Linked DNA regions of Homo sapiens. The protein of the gene in region 2 interacts with the protein of the main gene of each other region in a pairwise test. Each region holds a gene or a part of one and is shown on either strand. Other genes may lie near its edges.

Evidence for each region.
Region 1: the proteins of PRR23B (region 2) and IGFN1 interact in binary tests that used the Homo sapiens proteins (3 or more experiments, as listed by UniProt).

The regions. Positions count from the first base shown.
Region 1 is NC_000001.11:201,191,838-201,202,003, reverse strand, and holds part of IGFN1 (immunoglobulin-like and fibronectin type III domain-containing protein 1), read right to left. Parts: intron 8,758-10,166; 5' UTR 8,711-8,757; coding exon 8,704-8,710; intron 7,851-8,703; coding exon 7,731-7,850; intron 6,166-7,730; coding exon 6,026-6,165; intron 4,787-6,025; coding exon 4,687-4,786; intron 2,671-4,686; coding exon 2,626-2,670; intron 2,396-2,625; coding exon 2,350-2,395; intron 1,768-2,349; coding exon 1,593-1,767; intron 286-1,592; coding exon 172-285; intron 1-171.
Region 2 is NC_000003.12:139,016,991-139,027,151, forward strand, and holds PRR23B (proline-rich protein 23B), read right to left. Parts: upstream 3,937-10,161; 5' UTR 3,672-3,936; coding exon 2,874-3,671; 3' UTR 2,041-2,873; downstream 1-2,040.

The DNA.
Region 1 (10,166 bases), on a different chromosome or scaffold from region 2:
TACACCAGGGTTTGGTCCAGGTCCAGCCAGGAACTCCATGGGATGAGGGGCTCACCACTTGTGTGCTCTGGTTGTTCCCTTGGAGGAATGCAGGGTACCCATAGTTCCCTCTCCACTAGACCTGAAGCATCCCTGCCAGATCCCCCCCACCCATAGCCCCTCCAGCCTCACCTTATACAGGTAAATCTTGCTCTGAGAATCCTTGAGATCCAGCTCCAAGTCAAACTTTGCATTCCCATCCTTGGTGACCCTGATGTGTCTTAAGCTGGAGATGGTGTTGATGTACTACAAAGCAGACAAACACCCAGCAGGAGAGCTCATGAAGCTCTCTCTTCGGGGTACTCTGAACCCTCATAGGCTCTGGTACCATCCCAGGCCCACAGCGTTCCAGATGAGCATGCATTGGCCCCTTTTACAAGTGGGGGAAAGTAAGCCCCTCAAGGAAGGAAATTCTCCAAGATGAGAGATCAGATCAGGAAGACAACCAAGAAAAGACCCCAGGTGTTCAGTTGCTAGAACACAGTGGGGCTTTTCCATCTATCTGTACTTCTAACGAACATTAGTTGAACACCTACCGTGTGCAAAGCTCTGTGCTAGGTCCCGTGTTAAAGCCAATGAGAAAGCTTGGAGGAGAGAAGGCTGAGACCCTAGGTGTTAGGTTTAAGGAAGCTTATCTTTCAAGGGGATAAGATACTATTTTCAGGATAATAAAAACTAGTTGTTTTCCATTTTCAGAAGAAAAATTAGACTTATGCTATAGTTAAGTTAGACACAGGAAAGAAATTCCTGTACAGCTGATAAGATTCTGGGATCAGAGTGCTAATGGGAACTGTGAAATTCCCTTCCATGAAAGCCTTTAGAAGTAAACCAGGTAGCCAGGTGCGGTGGCTCACGCCTGTAATCCCAGCACTTTGGGAGGCCGAGGCAGGCGGATCACGAGGTCAGGAGATCGAGATCATCCTGGCTAACACGGTGAAACCCCGTCTCTACTAAAAATACAAAAAGTTAGCTGGGTGTGGTGGCAGGCACCTGTAGTCCCAGCTACTCAGGAGGCTGAGGCAGGAGAATGGCGTGAACCTGGGAGGCGGAGCTTGCAGTGAGCCAAGATCCGGCCACAGCACTCCAGCCTGGGCGAAAGAGCAAGACTCCATCTTAAAAAAAAAAAAAAAAAGAAAGAAATAAACCAGGTACCTCCCCCCCGCAATCTGGTGACAATGATAATGATAGCAAAAATCAAGGCACTAAGCTAAGTACTTTAATTACATTCTCTCATTTATCCTCCCAATAACCCTACAAGGTAGGCATGACTATAATTCCCATTTTACAGATGAAGACACCAAGATACAGAGGCCCTAACCCTTCCAAAGCTCCAGAGTTTAGTAAGTATCAGAACCAGGTTGCAAAGGCAGGACACCAACCTGGGATCCCAGGGCCTTAGCCAGATACCCCACTGGGGACTAGATGGAGACAGGCCCCTTGATCATACTTGGTTTCCTAAGTTCTGCCTCCAAGCCCACCTCCAGGTGTGAGGCACCTATGGTCCAGGTGTGTGGGGTGGGCATGGAGTGAGGGGTGGGAATGGGGTGAGGCACCTGTGCCATCTTGTCCTCCTGTTCCTTCTTCATCTCCTGCAGCCTGCGCAACATGCCACGGTAGTCGACGATGCCATACTTCAAGCAGATCTTCTCGTAGTCCTTCCTGTCTGCTGTCATCAGCAGCTGCCATATCTGCTCAAGGTCCATCTTTTTCTTGGGGGCTGGTGGGGCCCTGGGGAGCAAGGCTAGCAGGTCAGAGGCCAGAGGAATCCCTGCTCCTCTGTTGGCCACCTGGCTCTGGTGTCCCAAGTAGTTCTGGGAAGCTGCTCTATCTGCACTCGAGGAAACGCAGAGCCTGGAATCTCTGGGACTGACCACTGTTGAGGCCAGAAGGATTCAGAGATGGGTGGGGCGAGCCTCAGCCTCACCCCACAACTTTCAGGAGAAATGCTCCTGACAACTTGTATTGTAGATTTCTAAGTAGGATGTCTGGGGAAAGTGGGTGTTGCATTGTTCTGTTGCTTAAAAAAAAAAAGTACATCATTGTTCTGGTGGACCACCACATTTTGCAAATGAGGAAATCAGAGGAGAGATGATTAACTCAAGGATATAGAGCTTTGAAATGGCAGAGCTGGAGCTCTGTCCCATTCCCATCCAGTTCAGTCCCCTTCCCATCCTCCCATCTGCTACTGGCAGTCTAGCTCCCTGCTGTGTTGGGTAGAGGTGGGGCTCAAGCCCAGCTTACTTATGGAAATAGCAGGGGGTGAATACTATGGGAGCCTCCAAAATCCCTCATGGACAGGCCCAAACCCACCTCTTTTTCAGCAACTTCCGGAAGTCCATCAGCTCCTTCCTGAGGTCTGAAAAAGGAGCAGGAATGAGGCCTCAGTCCCAGGTGGGATGACTGAGGGTTGATGCAGAGCTTTTCTGTGTTGTCCATGCTGACAACTGAGCCTTTGGAAGGGGCTCTCTTGAAGACTGGTGGTGATCCACAAGGTGTTCATGGTAGCTCAACCAGGCAGGGAACACCAGGAAAGGAGTAGCCTATCCCCCACAGGCCCCCAAGGAGGTTTCTGACAAATCTGCCTACCTTCCTGCGGTTCCCTGTGCCTCTTCCGATTCTTCCGAAAGCCAACTGCAACATCCAGGGAGGAGAGGAAGGAGTCGATGTGGACAAGCAGGGAGAGAAGCAAGACATGTTGATGGTCTTCCTGAGAAACTGATGGAGTCCCAGAGCCCTGCTCTCCCCACTGTCCTCTAAGGCGTGGACGATCCCAGCAAGAGGGATGGAGCAGGGTGGAGGGTCTGTCCATCATAAGCCTTTTTACCCTAGAGCCTTACCATGACCAAGGGGACCAACCTAAGCATCATCTCATGCAGGGGAGGCCCAGTCATGTGTCCGCAGGGGCCAGGGAGGTGGCATAAATGCGTGAAGCAGACACTGGCAACCACAACAAACTCAAGAGTATCTAAAGGGGCAGCTGCTCTTTCACTCCACCTGGGAGCTGCCATTTCAGGGTATAGGCCCAATATTGCCAAATAGGTCAGACATTGCTGTTTGGCTAATCCTGCAGCCATTTGTATTCTTCATCATCTGCTTCCACTAGAGAGGCTGAAAAAGCTAAACACTCACCTTCCCCAGCTTCCCTTGCAACTAGCAGTGCTCATGTGACACTGTCCTGACCAATGAGCTCCAGGAATTTCTGAGAAAGCCTTTGCTTCCTCTATAAAAAGGGTGGATGGACTGGTCGTGATGGTTCATGCCTGTAATCCCAGCATTTTGGGAGGCCGAGGGGGGAGGATAGCTTGAGCCCAGGAGTTCCAGACCAGCCTGGGCAACACAGGGAGACCCCGCCTCTACAAAAAAAATAAAAAAATTAGCTGGGTGTGATGACACATGCATGTAGTCCCAGCTACTTGGGAGGCTGAGGTGGGAGGATCACTTGGGCCTGGGAGGTCAAGGCTGCAGTGAGCCATAATCACACCACTGCACTCCAGCCTGGGCAACAGGTCTCAAAAAATAGAAAATAAAAGGCCAAGCACAGTGGCTCATGCCTGTAATCCCAGCACTTTGGGAGGCCGAGGCAGGTGGATCACCTGAGGTCAGGAGTTCGAGACCAGCCTGGCCAACGTGGTGAAACCCTGTCTCAACTAAAAATACAAAAATTAGCCAGGCATGGTGGTAAACGCGTGTAATCCCAGCTACTCAGGAGGCTGAGGCAGGAGAATTGCTTGAACCCGGGAGGCAGATGTTGCAGTGAGGTGAGATTGTGCCACTGTACTCCAGCCTACGCGATGGAGCAAGACTCCAGTCCATCTCAAAAATATAAAAATAAAAATAAGAGAGGCAGATGGACCTGGGCCACCTCTTCCACCTTCCTACCTTGAACATGGATTATGTTTGAATCTGCCACAGCCCTCTTATGGCCATGAGGTGATAAGCCAATCTGCTAAGGATGGCAGAGCAGTGGGAACGAAGGAATCAGCTCTCCGATGGCAGCCCTGAGCTGTGGTATGAGCCCTGGACGCCACTCGCAAAACTTCTTATGTGAAGGAATGAAATATCGTTATTTCTTAGGCTGCTCTTAGTAGGATTTTCTGTTAGTTGCAGGCAGATCAATTGTAAGCATAACCAATGGCGAGACTAGACCTGCTTCCTCAAGAGATATCTACCTTTTAATTACTACAGGTTGACAATTTTTAAAATTTCAAACACCACGCACACCAAAAAAAACATGTCTGAGAGAGAATTTGGCCTTTGTGTGACCTGTTTGTCAACTCTGGCATAGGCCTGTCCAAAATATCCTTTGCATGGTGGAGAAACTGAGACCCAGAGAGGAAAACGAAGCCCATTGAATGAGTTAGCAGAAGCTCTAGGACTAGAAGCCAGCTTTCAGGTCCTGCTCATTTACTGGGCCAAGAGAATATCCTTCAGAGTATCTGCCAAGGTGTGCCTTTTTAAACACATGCAGACTCAGTGTGCATGTGGATGAAGCCCGGGGCCCAGCACAAGGTGGGGCTGCAGCAGCGGCAGCAGCCTGGATGGGCCTCCCTTCCCTCCCCTCCCCTCCCTCACTAGCCACGGGGCATCTGATTCCTCTGTGGGTCTCTGCCCTGTGCACTGATGAGACAAACTCAGGGAAAAGCCCACCTTCGATGACAGTGAGTCTCACTGAGCAAGCGGCCTCTCCGTACGCATTTACTGCTGTGCAGCGGTACAGATCCGTGTCCTCGCCTGTCAGCTTGTTGATCTGCAGAGAGGCCAAGGGCAGAGGAACAGGGCTACCACATCCCCTTCCTCCATTTACTAGACACGGCTATGTGTTGGGGGTATAAAGTGAGTAAGACATGGTCCTTGTCCTCATGGAGCTCACAGTCTTTATCAGGAAAGACAGACCCCAAAACAGAAACCTGGTTTGGGACAGAGGGTGGATGTATCAATTCTTTGCCATCAGAGGCAATGTAGCGAAGTAGAAAGAGTGTGCTTTTTGGGGTCAGATGGATCTGGGCCTGAAAACAGTCTCTGTCCTGTATTACTAGCTGTGGGACCTTGGGCAAGTTACCTAACTTCTCTCAACTTCAGTTTCTTCATTTGTAAGATGGGAATATAATACCTCAAAAAAGTGGTGAATAATTAGAATTAAATATATAATCTATGTCAAATATTTAGCCCCTGGGACATAGTAGGGCCTGGCACATAGTAGGTATCCCATGGTTAGTATTTATAATATTGCTCAGATTAGCCAAGATTGATTGAGTACTCACTATAGGCCAGGCACTAGCTAGACACTTTACATAAAACTTTCATCCTCATAACAACTCCTGGCCAGGCGCAGTGGCTCATGTCTGTAATCCCAGCACTTTGGGATGCCGAGGCGGATGGATCATTGTTGGTCAGGAGTTCAAGACTAGCCTGGCCAACATGGTGAAACCCCAACTCTACTAAAAATACAAAAATTAGTCGGGCGTGATGGCGCATGCCTGTAATCTCAGCTACTTGGGAGGCTGAAGCAGGAGAATCGCTTGAACCTGGGAGGTGGAGGTTGCAGAGAACCAAGATCACGCCATTGCACTCCAGCCTGGGCGACAGAGTGAGATCCATCTCAACAACAACTCATAACAACTCCTTAAAGTAGGTACTATTATTATCCCATTTTTACAAATGAGGAGACAGAGGTAAAAAGAGTAAAATGACTTTCTAAAGCCAAGGTGGTGGGCCTGGGATTGTAACTCCAGCAGTCTGACTTCAGAGCTTGAGCTCTTAAGCTCCAGTCTACACCACCTCCCAGGTTATCAGCAGAGGTATCTGCAAGCCTGCCAGATCCATTCTTGGCTCAGGCAACTTTGAGTCACGAGATGGAGTTGAATGGATTCAACCTCAACGAGGAGTATGTCTTACTCCTCTAGGGATTGGAGGCTGCCAAAGAGACCTTCAAGGGGATGGGAAAAGACGAGTAGACCCTGGTCAGGGGAAGAGCTACGGTTCTTACCTGCAGCACGTGCTCCTTGCTGCCAGGGCTGGAGGAGATCTTGTACTTGCTGGAATCACTGAGGTCACCTTTGGAGTTCTGCCAACGCACCTCGGGCCTGGGCTCCCCACAGACCACAGCCCGAAAGACAGCATTTTTCCCTGCAGCAGGAAGAGACGAGTAGGGAGACTGACAAGTTGGGAGAGGGTGACTGTATACTTTATTTAAATTTTAATTTATATCGTCTTCCTCATCTAGGTATTTCAACTGCCCCTTCCAAAAAGGATGCCAGGCCTTGGTCCCCTTGACTCAGGACTCAGAATACGCAGGTGGAAAGCAGCAGATTCCAGGCACCCAGAAGGCAGTGCTTCCTCTTTCTATATTGCAGAAGCTTGGGCTGCTTGAGGGAAAGAGACAGGTGGACTGGCCCTGGTGAAAGGGGAGGCCAGCAGGGCTTTAGGGGACAGGGGCTTTTCTTTGAGAGTGGGTGAGCAAGGAGTCTGAAGGCTCTGCCAAGACTAGGAAGGGAATGAGATTTTGTGAGTTCCGGGCAGGCGCAGGGGCTCACGCATGTAATCCCAGCACTTTGGGAGGCCAAGGCAGTCGTATCACCTGAGATCAGGAGTTCGAGACCAGCCTGGCCAACATGGTGAAACCCCATCTCTATTAAAAATACAAAAAGTAGCCAGGCTTGGTGGCATGTGCCTGTAATCCCAGCTACTTGGGAGGCTGAGGCAGGAGAATCACTTGAACCCCAGAGGCAGATGTTGTAGTGATCAGAGATTGCGCCACTGCACTCCAGCCTGGGCAACAGAGCGAGACTCCATCTCAAAAAAAGAAAAAAAAAAAAGAAGAGATTTTCTGGCTTCCCTTCCTACTCTCTAGGGGGAGGAGGAATCACAACTAGGAGAAGGAGTGACTATTTGGTGCCCGAAGGATCCGGTGCTGAGACACAGGCTTCAGCCTCAGAAAAGACCCCATGCTCCATGCCTGTCATGGAGGCCTGGGAACTGCCCGCCCTCAAGGAATCCCTCAGCCTCCCACCAGGAACATCTCAGTAGACAGCAATATAGACCAAAGGCCCAAGGGCCCTTCCCAATTTCTCATTACCTTGTTCCAGATTTAGAAAAATAAAATACCATTCTTTTTCTTATTACCAGGATGCTATGAACTAAAATTTATTGCAGGGTGTGTGTTGGGGAAAGAACACCAATTCCCACTTTTTCCCCAATAAGCCTTTGTTCCCACCACTTTCTTGGACACCTTCTTATGTGGCCTTCTAGAAGGGCCTTCCTGAGCCCAGCCTGTGAGCCACAGCAGGTGCTGCTGCCTGGAGGCGAGGATTGGGAAGAGTCAAATTAACTGTTTTAACAGTGCCTCTCTGCAGCAGTGGCTTTGAGGTGAGGAGACAGGGACCAGGAAACACCACAACCTCTCCCTGCTCCCCAGTTTAGCATTTTTCCATCCCTGCCCCCCAGATATTTCTCACACCAGAATAGCATGGTGTCTCTTCACTCTCTTTATCCACTCTTTTCCCCAGGCCTCTTGTCACTTCTAGGGTTCCAGGTAAGCACATACCCCCTCAAGGATAGGAGGGAGATGGGCTATGGCCTAGTGATGGATATAGGGCCTGGGTCCCCAGGAAGGTTGGTGCCCCAGCCCTCTCCCCTGGGAGGTAGGAGAGCAAGAATCTTGCCTCCCCTCCGCAGCTCCCCTCTGGGCTCACCCTCTGGCAGAGCCGAGGTGACGGGCTTCTGCTCAAAGTCCGGCGTGCTGCAGCCTTCAGGGATCTCCTCCACCAGCTGCCAGATGCTCACTCCAGGGATGTGGGACTTCCGGAGCTTTCCTGGAGAATGCAGGAGGGAAGGAGATGGGGCCTTCCACCTTCTTCCTCCTGGGTGGCCCTTCAACAGAATGGGCATCCACCCACTCACCCCAGGAGCAAGAAGCCCCTTCTCGCTCCTACTTTTGGGTCAGGATTATTTGTAGTACCTCCTGCCTGTGCACAGTGCTTTTGAATTCTCTAGTGGGAATCTGGTGGCACACACTCTGGCAGTGTGAATGGAGCCTCTAGGAAGTGGGTGGGGCACCCTAGGAAGACCCTGAGTGTGTCACTGGGGAAAAGCTGGGAAGAAAGAGTGAGAAAGGGCTCCTTCTCAGGAAGCCAAGAAGCAGGAGCTCGTGTGGGGGCTTTGCACTCCTTACTCAGGAAAACAAATCAAAACCCAAAGCCAAGACTCAAAAAAAAAGCCAAGCACGGTGGCTTACGCCAGTAATCCCAGCACTTTCGGAGGCCGAGGTGGGCAGATCACCTGAGGTCAGGCATTCGAGACCAGCCTGACCAACATGGTGAAACCCCACCTTTACTAAAAATACAAAAATTAGCCAGGCATGGTGGCAGGCACCTGTAATCCTAGCTACTCAGGAGGCTGAGGTGGGAGAATCACTTGAACCTGGGAGGTGGAGGTTGCAGTGAGCTGAGATCGCGTCACTGTACTCCAGCCTGGGCAACAGAGTGAGATTCTGTCTCAAAAAAAGCCAACAACAATAAAAATAAAATAAAATAAAATAAGGAGAAAAAAAACAACAACAAGATGGGCAAGTTCCCAGAAATCTCTGATCCCTACCACTTCTCTCCTCTCTGTCCTGGTAAGGATCGCCAGGGAGGGCTGGGGAGGGGAGATTAGTTCTTCTCTTACCTGCCATAGTTCTGCCTCCTCTTTGACTCCTCTGAGGGTAGAAGTTCTATTACCCTGAGAACAGAAATGGAATTGCTTTTGAGAAATCCAGGCTGGTCTCACCCCACCCCTCCCACACCATCAGTGCATCAGCCAATGTCTGGGGTGGGAGCTGGAAAAAGCTGCTGCCCCCAAGAGCTTTTCTAACCCACTAATGGCACTGATTAGTTTCCTGCAATTCCCTGTCCCCAGCAAAACCAATTTCCCAGAGACCAGGGAGTGGGTAGCATGCTACCCAGTTGGTAACATTCCCAGGTAAAGGGAACCATAAGCTGAGCCTGCACACTGTGCTGGTGGCCTGGCCTCCTGGTGGGACCCCAGACCTGATTACCCTGCCCAGAACATGAGACACAACCCTCCCAAACCTGAGGAAATCAGACCCATTCAGGATCCTTTCAGCTGTGTAAGGATTCAGCTGTGAAAGGATTTCAGCTGTGAAAGGATTCAGGCTCCTTTCAGCTTGCCCCATTGGCTTTGGAATGGGAATTCTCCAAGGACATTCTTTGGGCCTCCTGGCTCTTCCCCCAACTCTGAGATTTTCTGGCAGGACACTGAAGCCCTCTACTTCCCACGCTCCACCAATCTAGAATCCTTCCAGTCACAAGGTCTGCAGGGGAGAGGCCTCAAATTTGCTGCTCTTAAGCTCTTCTTGGCCCAGGCCTGTAGGATCCCCATAAATCCATCTGCTCCCCTCAGAAGCCAGTGAATTATAGTGTCAGGTGAATAGGAGTATTTTCCATTCTCTCACCACCACCATCTCTCCTGATTTCCTCTTAATTGCATCCATCTGTTATGGCCAATGGGGAGTCCCACACAGGAGAGGAAGGGGGTTGGGTCTGGGGTGGGATGAGAGCCATAAATCAGGGAGGGGGGATGTCTTGAAAGAATCTTCCAGCAGTCCCACCCTCTGTGCGATTGGCCCATGGCCAAGCGGTTCCATTTTGGGGACTCCATTTTCTGCCCAAAGAGCCTTATCATTAATATAGAATCACACATGACAGAGCAAATTCCTCTCTCCCATGGAGATCATTCCATTTCGCAACGGCCACCCACTGGCACTTCTGACCCCTGGCAGCCCCTCGCCAGCCCAGCCGCTGCACCCTAGCGTGCTGGAATGCCATGGTACGCCAACTGCGTTCTGGAGTGGTCACGGGTGCCACAGGCACTACGCCGAAGGGAGTCACGAGGAAGGGTGGGAGGGAAGGCAGCCACCAACGGATGAGGACCCAGCTGGACACGGCCAGGGGGAGGGCTGCAAGGGCCCCCATCCCACCCACCCCTCAGTGCAGCCTCCTGGTAGATGCAAGTGCACTGGTGCCAGTCGGTGACCCCCACACTGGAGTAGTTTGAGTTCAACACAGCTATCTGAGTCATCATCCCCATCGTCACCCACATCATCACCACGAGCAGCTATCATCCTGTTA
Region 2 (10,161 bases):
CCTGTGACTTTCCAGAAAGACAAGTTACAAGAGTTCCAAAGCCCCAATTCTGAATGGTGGTCCTGGGAAGACTAGGAAGTGGAAACTATAAAAATTATAAATATGGGATTCAGAAGATGAATTCCCACCCACAGTGTGCCCACTAATGAAAATTACTAAGCACGAGGCAATCTAATGTGATTAAAAACAAATAATGAGAGATTTTACCTGTGGGGAAATTGAATCAATTTAGCTATTAAAGTTAAAAAATTTTCAAAACATAAATGATGGAATACCTTCCATGAACAAACTAGAAGTTTGTGATACCAAGTGGGAAGTTTTGAAGCAAAAATCTTGAGAAATCCTGAAAAAAAAATTCTTTGAAATGAAAACTTTCTTATAGAACTATAAACAGAATAACAAAAAACAAAACAAAACAAACAGAATATTGTAAGCAGTCAACCAGAGTAGTTAATTGGATTAAAGAATAAAGGAAGTTGGGGCCGGGCGTGGTGGCTCACTTTTGGAGGCCGAGGTGGGTGGATCACTTGAGGTCAGGAGTTCAAGACCAGCCTGGCCAACATGGTGAAACCCCATCTCTACCAAAAATACAAAAAATAGCTGGGTGTGATGGCAAGCATCTGTAATCCCAGCTTCTTGGAAGGCTGAGGCAGGAGAATCGTTTGAACTCAGGAGGCAGAGGTTGCAGCGAGCCAAGATCGGGCCACTGTACTCCAGCCTGGGTGACAAAGCGAGACTTCATCTCAAAAAAAAAAAAAAATACAGGAAGTTCGATTTGATAAGGTGTACATACACTCACAAACATACATGTATATTAAGATATCAAGATGTTATGAGCCAGGGGAGATTGATTGAGCAGTGCCATTATATATCTGATTGGATTTCTTCTTTTCTTTCTTTCTTTCTTTTTTTCTTTTTTTTTGGACAGAGTCCTGTTCTGTTGCCCAGGCTGGAGTACAGTGGCACAATCTCAGCTAACTGCAACCTTCGCCTCCTGAGTTCAAGCGATTCTCCCGCCTCAGCCTCCTAAGTAGCTGGGATTACAGGTGTGTGCCACCACGCCCAGCTAATTTTTGTATTTTTGGTAGAGACGGGGTTTCTCCATGTTGGCCAGGCTGGTCTTGAACTCCTGACCTCGGGTGATCCACCCACCTCAGCCTCCCATCTGATTGGATTTCATGGGGATATAGGCAATATTCCAAGAGATGAAACTTAAGATTTTGTGGTATTTCAGGCAAGAAATAGTTTCCAATATTGATAGTTAACTAAATTCTATCAAGCTAAATGAAAATATAGTCTACCCCTAGACACATTACAGTAAACTGTAGAACACCAAAGGCAAATCAACATTTTAAAAAATATACTAAAATTGGCCAGATGTGGTGGATCACACCTGTAATCCCAGCACTTTGGGAGGTCAAAGTGGGTGGATCACTTGAGCCCAGGAGATCCAGACTAGCGTGGGCAACATGGTGAAACCCCGTTCCTACAAAAAATACACTTGAGCCTGGGATGTTGAAGCTTCAGTGAGCCGTGATTGCACCACTGCACTCCAGCTTGGGCGACAGAGTGAACCCTGTCTTAAAGTCTTTCTCTCTCTACACACACACGCACACACACACACACACACACACACACACGAACAGCCAAATTACATATAAAAGGACTAACAACTTGATTGACAGAAGACATCCTGCAACAACAAAAAATGGCAAAACAACGGGCTAATATCTTTAAAGTACTGTAGTTAAATATCATTTTAAAATTAAGAATGAAGGTGTAATTAAAACATTTACAGTCAATTCTAAGAAAGTTTATCACACAAAAACATGCTCAGACTTACAGAAGCAAGATAGTTTATCACACGTAAGACACAGTGGAAAGAAATATTAAAGGATATTCTTCACAAAAAGAAAACTGAAGCTACAGTGAAGGAGTGGAATGTAAGAATAAAAATGTAGGAAATAATTGGTAAGGCATAGTGGTAGATCTGAATAGTTATTGATGTTTTTAAATAAAATAAAACCAGCTTGTTGACATCAGCTTTACCAGTAATCTTTTATCTCCTATATAAAAATATGAGGCAACTACAGTAATAAACTAACATTTTAAAAGTTAGAAGTTTGGTTTACATGAGAAAAAACTCAGGGTAGATTTTAAAAGGTATAAAATAATGTGGAATAGCAGGAATGCAAACACTTTCCATTGGGTGAAATCACCAGATTAACAAATTAAAAAAAAATACATAACACAATGCATGCTGAAAACATCTGATAAAATTCAACACAAATTTTCATTTAGAATTAGAAGACTAGAAGAAAACTTCAGCAGGATAAGGGGTTCCTAGGAAGAAGCAACATACAGTCTTGTATAGTAAGCATACTATTTGGCAGTTTCCTTGGAGAGCAGTTGGAAAAACCCCAAGAAAAGCCATGGCTAAGTCTTCCAAAATTCATGGGAAAAAAATGCAAGGTAACTAACAACGTAAGAGATCTGGTGATTTCTTGGTTTGGGGAGAAACGGGAGTGGCAGTATGATGCTGGAGAAAGACTGGAATTTGAGAGAAACAACTGATGCAAAACGAGGGAGAATGAAGGGATCTGAATATGACCTTGTAAAGAAGCCCAGAAATCTGGACACATTTTCTGGTATCCTTGCGCAGATTTTCTATTTAAAGATGAGGTCTAGAATATACCTTTTCTTGCTGACGTCTTCATCTCCTACTATCGGTAGTGTGCAGCGAAAAAGCAATTGTCCGAACACGCGGTGCCCAATTTCCAGGTTGTTGGATACTCAATGTGAGAGATTCCCGCAATCCTAGAGGGCCTCCAGCAGAGCGGCCAGGATTGTTGTGTGTACGTGGGGGTGGGGGTCTATGCCTGGAACAGGCGTCTCCGGGCCTTGCACGGAGGGCGTTCCGGGAGCGGCGAGCGCGCGTGGGGACCTGGACTCCCCACGCACGGAGAGGGAGGTAGAGGTTGGAGAGGTGAGCTGGGGACAGGCTCCAGAAGGCGGAATTCCAGGTCAAAGATGGGGCGTGGAGAACGTCTCTCTGAACTGGGGTTGGGGGCCAGAGCACAGGGTTCTGGGATGGGGCCCTCCCGGTAGGGGATGAACATACTTCTAGAGGAGGGGTAGAGCCCAGCGGCTGAGCCGGTTGGGGAGTCCATCCGGAGCTCCGGGAACTCGGGGTCCGCGTCCTCCTCGTAGGCCTCTTCCTGGGCGGCGATCTCTGGGACAGATGCGCAGAATTCCAGCTCGACGACGACGTCCTCCCTGACAGCGCCCAGGAAAACGTCCACTTCCAGCCCGGCAGACGAGTCGTGCTGCGCTCCTGAGCGTTCGTCGACGGAGCTCAGGAGGACCTCTGGGATCAGGATGAGGGTGTGTCCACCGAGAGACACTCGCAGGATCGACGTTGGTGCGGGCTCCAGCACCAGGTCGACGTCGTCCAGGGGCACACGCAGGGCACAGCCCGCGGCCAGGACCACTATGGAGGTGAGCGCGTCCACGGCCGGGTCCCCCGCCGGGTCTTCCAGGCTGGGTGCCGCGCGGGGTTCGGGGCCCGCGGGCTCCTCCAATCGGAGGCGCTTGGCAGGGCCGGGTCCTCCTGGCTGCTGTCCCCACCAGGGAGCAGGGAAGGCGCTGGGGCTGCGGGGCCGGCTGACCATCGCCTCGACGGCGCTGTGGACGGCGCTCCTGGGCCTAGCAGCGGACGTGGGGAGCGCGGCGGTGAAGTCCTCTTTGAAGTAACAGATGTCGGTGGTAGGGGAGGCTGGTTGGGACGAGCGGGGCGCAGGACCGCGCGACGCGGGGCGAGTCCTCGGAGCTCCCGGGGCGCCTCCTGGGGGACCGTAGTCTGGGCTGCTGGTGGTGCCTCGCCGGCCACCGGGCTCAGCTTAGCTCGTTGGACCCTTGGGCCTTCCTGATGCAGACCCGGATGCGCACTGCAAAGCCAATTATGTTGTAAATGACGGCAGCGGAACCGAAGTCGCAAAATGTCACGCAATGCTCCGCCCCCTGGAGGACCCGCTCTAGAGGCGGAGGTATCCGTGCTGTCCAGTATCCGTGGCTATAATTGGTCGGACACGCTGGGGAAATACTCTTACAGGCCTCTAGGGGGCAGAATGATCAGTATAACTTATTCAGAAAAAATGATAACAACTGTAATAGAATTTCAAAGATGGCTCGCCTTTAGAACTCATGTTTTCTTGTGATTTCAGGGATTCTAGAGAAAAGACCACTCAGATCTCTCCGACCCATCCAAATGCTACATACAATTCCTTTAATGCTACTAAATTATTTCATTTTAGGAGTATTCAGAAAATACAGATTTCTACTTGGGAAAATTGATTTTAAAATTCTGAGTGAAGCTGGGAGTGGTGGCTCACGCTTGTAATCCCAGCACTTTGGGAGGCTGAGGAAGGCTGATCGCTTGAGCCCAGGAGTTCAAGACCACTCTGGGCAACATGGTGAGACTCGGTCCCTATGAAAAATTTAAAAATTCAAAAATTAGCCTGGCGTGGTGGTGCGTACCTGTGGTCCCAGCTATTTGGGAGGCTGAGATGGCAAGATCGATGGAGCCCGGGAGGTCAAAGCTGGAGTGAACCGTGGTGGTGCCACTGCACTCCAGCCTGGGCAACAGAGTGAGACCCTGTCTAAAAAAAAAAAAAAAAAAAGTGAAACATTTGTGAATAGTTTCATCCTGAAAGTTAAAAAGTTATAAAATTATTAATCATATTAAAATTTAAAACAATATTAATAAAATTATTTTTTTTTCTTTTTTTTTTTTTTTTTGAGACAGAGTCTCGCTCTGTCGCCCAGGCTGGAGTGCAGTGGCGCGATCTCGGCTCACTGCAAGCTCCACCTCCTGAGTTCACGCCATTCTCCTGCCTCAGCCTCCCGAATAGCTGGGACTACAGGCGCCCACCACCGCGCCCGGCTAATTTTTTTTGTATTTTTAGTAGAGACGGGGTTTCACCGTGTTAGCCAGGATGGTCTCGATCTCCTGACCGCGTGATCTGCCCGCCTCAGCCTCCCAAAGTGCTGGGATTACAGGCGTGAGCTACCGCGCCTGGCCGTATAAAATTAATTTTTAAATTGAACACTTATATTTCCATGATTCTTGAATTTTTTTTTTTTTTTTGACAGAGTCTGACTCTGTCTCCCAGGCTGGAGTGCAGTGGTGCAATCTCAGCTCACTGCAGTCTTGGCCTCCCAGGCTCTGGTGATCCTCCCACCTCAGCCTCCGGAGTAGCTGGGACTACAGGCCTGTGCCACCATACTGGCTATTTTTTTTTGTATTTTTAGTAGAGGCAGGGTTTTGCCATGTTGCCTAGGCTGGTCTTGAACTCTTGGGCTCAAGCGATCCTCCCTCATCGGCCTCTCAAAGTGCTGGGATTACAGGTGTGAGTCACTGCATCTGACCTGAGCTTTTTTTTTTGAGACGGAGTCTCACTCTGTCGCCTAGGTTTGAGTTAAGTGGCACGATCTTGGCTCACTGCAACTTCCGCCTCCCGGGTTCAAGCCATTATCCTGCCTCAGCCTCCCGAGTAGCTGGCAGTACAGGCACTTGCCACCACGCCTGGCTAATTTTTGTATTTTTAGTAGAGACGAGGTTTCATCATGTTGGCCAGTGTAGTGTCAAACTCCTGACCTCAAGTGATCCGCCTGCCTCGGCCTCCTAAAGTGCTGGGTGCTGCGGTTACACCGTGCCCAGCCCTGAGTTTTTTTTTTTTTTTTTTTTGAGACAAAGTCTTGCTCTTGTCCCCCAGGCTGGAGTGCAATGGCGCGATCTCAGCTCACTGCAACCTCCGCCTCCCGGGTTCAAGTGATTTTCCTGCCTCAGCCTCCCAAGTAGCTGGGATTACAGGGACTTACCACCATGCCCGTCTAATTTTTGTATTTTTAATAGAGAGGGGGTTTCACCTTGTTGGCCAGGCTGGTTTCGAACTCCTGACCTCAGGTGATCCACCCGCCTCGGCCTCCCAAAGTGCTGGGATTACAGGCGTGAGCCACCATGCCCTGCCAGTCCTGAGTATTTTAAAAACGATCTTCTTCATTCTTCACAACACCTGAGGCTCAGTGGTAAAGCAAATTTTTCTTAAAAAAATAATTAAAAAAATTTGTGTGGGTATATAGTAGAGGTATATATTTATAGGGTACATAAGATGTTTTGATACAGAAATGCAGTGTGAATAAGCACATTATAGAAAATGGGGTATCCATCTCCTCAAGCATTTATCCTTTGAGTTACAAACACACCAGTTACACTCTTTAAGTTATCAAATAGTAGGTCTTATTCATTCTTTGTGTTTTTTTTTTGTATGCATTAACCATCCTCACTTCCCTGGTAAAGCAAATTTTTCAAAATCAAATACCCAGGTTGTGTTGGATGTGGGAATCAAATGCACAGATATAGCTGGCTTTAAATCAAAGACTCTTTCCTGACACTTTTATGAGGAAAGTAGGAGTAGATCACTAATTGGTACTGTGTATGCCTTTCAAATTAACAGGTAATACCCCTTTCCCCATTCTTTTTTCAAAATGGCTTTCCCTGCTTACATTCACGTGAGCAGAGTATGTTTCCATTTCACTAAATCTTTGCAAGCATTTCTTATTGCCACATTCTTAAATCTTTTTCAAGCTATTGTAGTAAAATGCTATTTCATTTTGCATTTCTGATTACCAATAAAGTGAACCATTTTTCCTTTTTTTAAATTATACTTTAAGTTCTAGGGTACATGTGCACAACGTGCAGGTTTGTTACATATGTATACATGCGCCATGTTGGTGTGCTTCACCTATTAACTCGTCATTTACATTAGGTATATCTCCTAATGCTATCCCTCCCCTCTCCTCCCAGCCCTTGACGAGCTCCGGTGTGTGATGTTCCCCTTTCTGTGTCCAAGTGTTCTCATTGTTCAATTCCCACCTATGAGTGAGAACATGTGGTGTTTGGTTTTTCTTTCTTGCGATAGTTTGCTGAAAATGATGGTTTCCAGCTTCATCCATGTCCCTACAAAGGACATGAACTCATCCTTTTTTATGGCTAAAGTGAATCATTTTTTCATATGCTTATTTACTATTCTTGTATCTTCTTATTTGAAATGCTCCTATCTTCTATTTTTTTACTTTTAAAAAACTCAGGTTCACAATATTGTATACCAGTTATTCATCAGATATATGTGTAGCAAATATCTCTGTCATTCTCCCACAGTTTTTGAAGACATTAGCACCTGATTCACTATTATTCCCAGCCGATCTACTTCTGATGTAATTTGTGGTAATTTTAATGTTTTCATAGATTTTTCCCCCTGAAGTCCTAGCCTCTTAGTTCACAATTTTGTTCTGCCTCCTACCTCACTGACTCATACCCTTGACTTTGTTGTTACCCCAAGTTGTAATCCCTTTATAATCACAATTTCAACATTTTATTCTCACAGCACCACCTTCTAACTTTCTAATTCAGTTTTAAAAAATATCCAAATCTATCCATTTTTCATTCTCTCTGGAAAAATCCTTTTATCCTACCATCTTTTAATGGAAACTGATATCATCAGGTTCTCACTTCCCTCTTTACTGGGAACTTAAATTCCACGGACAGCCTTGATAATCATTGTCATATTTATATCTTCAACTTTCTTTCCTGTCTACTGCTTTGCTGGTTAAATCTATCTGCCTACTCAGTGCCCTTACTTGTATGGCTGAATGTGTCTGGAGAAAAACACTCAATCTCTTTGAATAGTCTCACTTTATAATCATGATCACCAACCTCCAGTGGGTTCCTAATGCTGCCAAGTGATCTTACTATATTGCTCTAGTCCATTCATTCTCTCACTCTTCCAGATGAATATTGCTTGCTTTCTCTTTTCTTCTCAAGCCTCCAATACCTAATCTCTTATTTTCACTTTTAAATGATCACCTTACTTTCTTTTCACTGAGACAATAGAAGCAATCTGAAGATATTTTTCAAAATTCCCATAATCACATCGGCCCATATAGTTGCATCGGGACTACATATTCTCTCTTCTTTCCTGTTCCCTTAGATAAATTGTTCATGGTCCTAGCAAAGGCCACCCCCTCCACTTGTGCAGTTGATTTAATCTCATCTTGCCTTCTCAAGAACATTACTTGAGTAATTCTGTCTCTGTCCTGGATCATCAAATTTTAGCTATCTCATCAAATTTTAACTACTGAATCAGTATCTTCAATATATAATTTGAGAGGAAACCTCTTCTGTGTTAAACAAAAACTCTTGACTTGACTTAAACTCCTCCAGTTTCTGCACCAACTTTCTCCTTATATACCCAAACTCTTGAGTTAGTCAACAATACTTACATTCCCCAATTTCCTTCCTCCCATGCTCTCTTGAGCCCATTCTAATCAGACTCCTGTCTGTGCCAGTCATCTATAAACCCTCTTACTAAGGTCACTAATGACCCCTATATTATTACATCCAATGGTTAATTCTCAGTCCTCATCTTGCAATCACTCTCTCCTTTAAACATTTACCCCCCTGGCATCCAAGATCTTTCACTCTCCCAGTCTGTCTTTGGCATCTTCTTATTTTTTCCCCTCATTCTGAAGGTTGGAATATCCCAGGAGCCAGTTCTTGGCCTTTTTTTTCCTGTCAACTTTCACTCTTTTATGTTAAACACCATCTGTATATTGGTGACTCTCAGATATGTGTGTCCCTCCTGTACCTCCCCTATGAACAAACAATTGCATTGTCAGTGTTTTCTCCTGAATATCTGTTAATTTGAAACACATGTAGTTTTCATTTTTATAGGTCAGAATAGTTGAATATTTCTCATTTTATATATTTCAACATAATAATAGGCGGTTCAAACGTTAGGTCCAAATTCGAGCTCTTCGTATTTCCCCAAACCCAATTATCTCCAAGTATTAACCATCACAGTAATCGGTAACTCCATCCTTCCTTTTGCTCAAACCAGAATTTTGGAATTAAGTGTCCTTTCCTTTGGAAAGGAGTGTCTTCCTTTCATGCTCCATAGCCATCCCATCAGGACGTCCTAGATCATGCCACTTCCTACCATCCCTCCAACTACCACCCTACTACCACTTTTATCTCTTGAGTAAATTACTGTAGAAGCCTCCTAAATGGTTTCTTTGCATCTCTCCTTTGTCTCTTTTCCAGCTAATCTCCATACAATAGCTAGAGTTGTTCTGTTAAACCATACGTAAATTATGCCACTCTGCTCAAACACCTCCAATTCCATTCAGGGTAAAAGCCAATGTTTTTATATGGGCCTATAGGTTGTGCTTGGATCTCTCACTCCTATTATCTGTCAGAGTTTATCTTCTATCACTCTGTCCTTTGCTCTCTGGTTTCTATGATTTTCCTAAAAATTGACAGGCATGCTTACAGATTTTGCAATTGTTCTTCTCCTGCCTAGAACACTTTACATCTCTCTGAGTGTTTCCTCACTTCCTTCAGACCATGTTGCCAGCAGCTCAATTTCTGAGGTTTCCCCAGAGCACACTATCTAAGATGGCAATCCCTGACCCTTCTAACTCCCCTCCCTACCTTAATTTAATCCTTAGCACTTATCAGTATTTAACATGTGGTGCATTTTATTCATTTATCTTATTTAATTTAATTTAATTAATTTATTTATTTTTATTATACTTTTAAGTTCTAGGATACATGTGCACAATGTGCAGGTTTGTTACATCTGTATACATGTGCCATGTTGGTGTGCTGCACCCATTAACTCCTCATTTACATGAGATATATCTCCTAATGCTTTCCCTCCCCCCTCCCCCCACTCCACAACAGGCCCCGGTGTGTGATGTTCCCCTTCCTGTGTCCAAGTGTTCTCATTGTTCAATTCCCACCTATGAGTGAGAACATGTGGTGTTTGGTTTTTCGTTGTTGTGATAGTTTGCTGAGAATGATGGTTTCCAGGTTCATCCATGTCCCTACAAAGGACATGAACCCATCCTTTTTATGGCTGCATAGTATTCCATGGTGTATATGTGCCATATTTTCTTAATCCAGTCTATCATTGATGGACATTTGGGTTGGTTCCAAGTCTTTGCTATTGTGAGTAGTGCCGCAATAAACATATGTGTGCATGTGCCTTTATAGCAGCATGTTTTATAATCCTTTGGGTATATACCCAGTAATGGGATCGC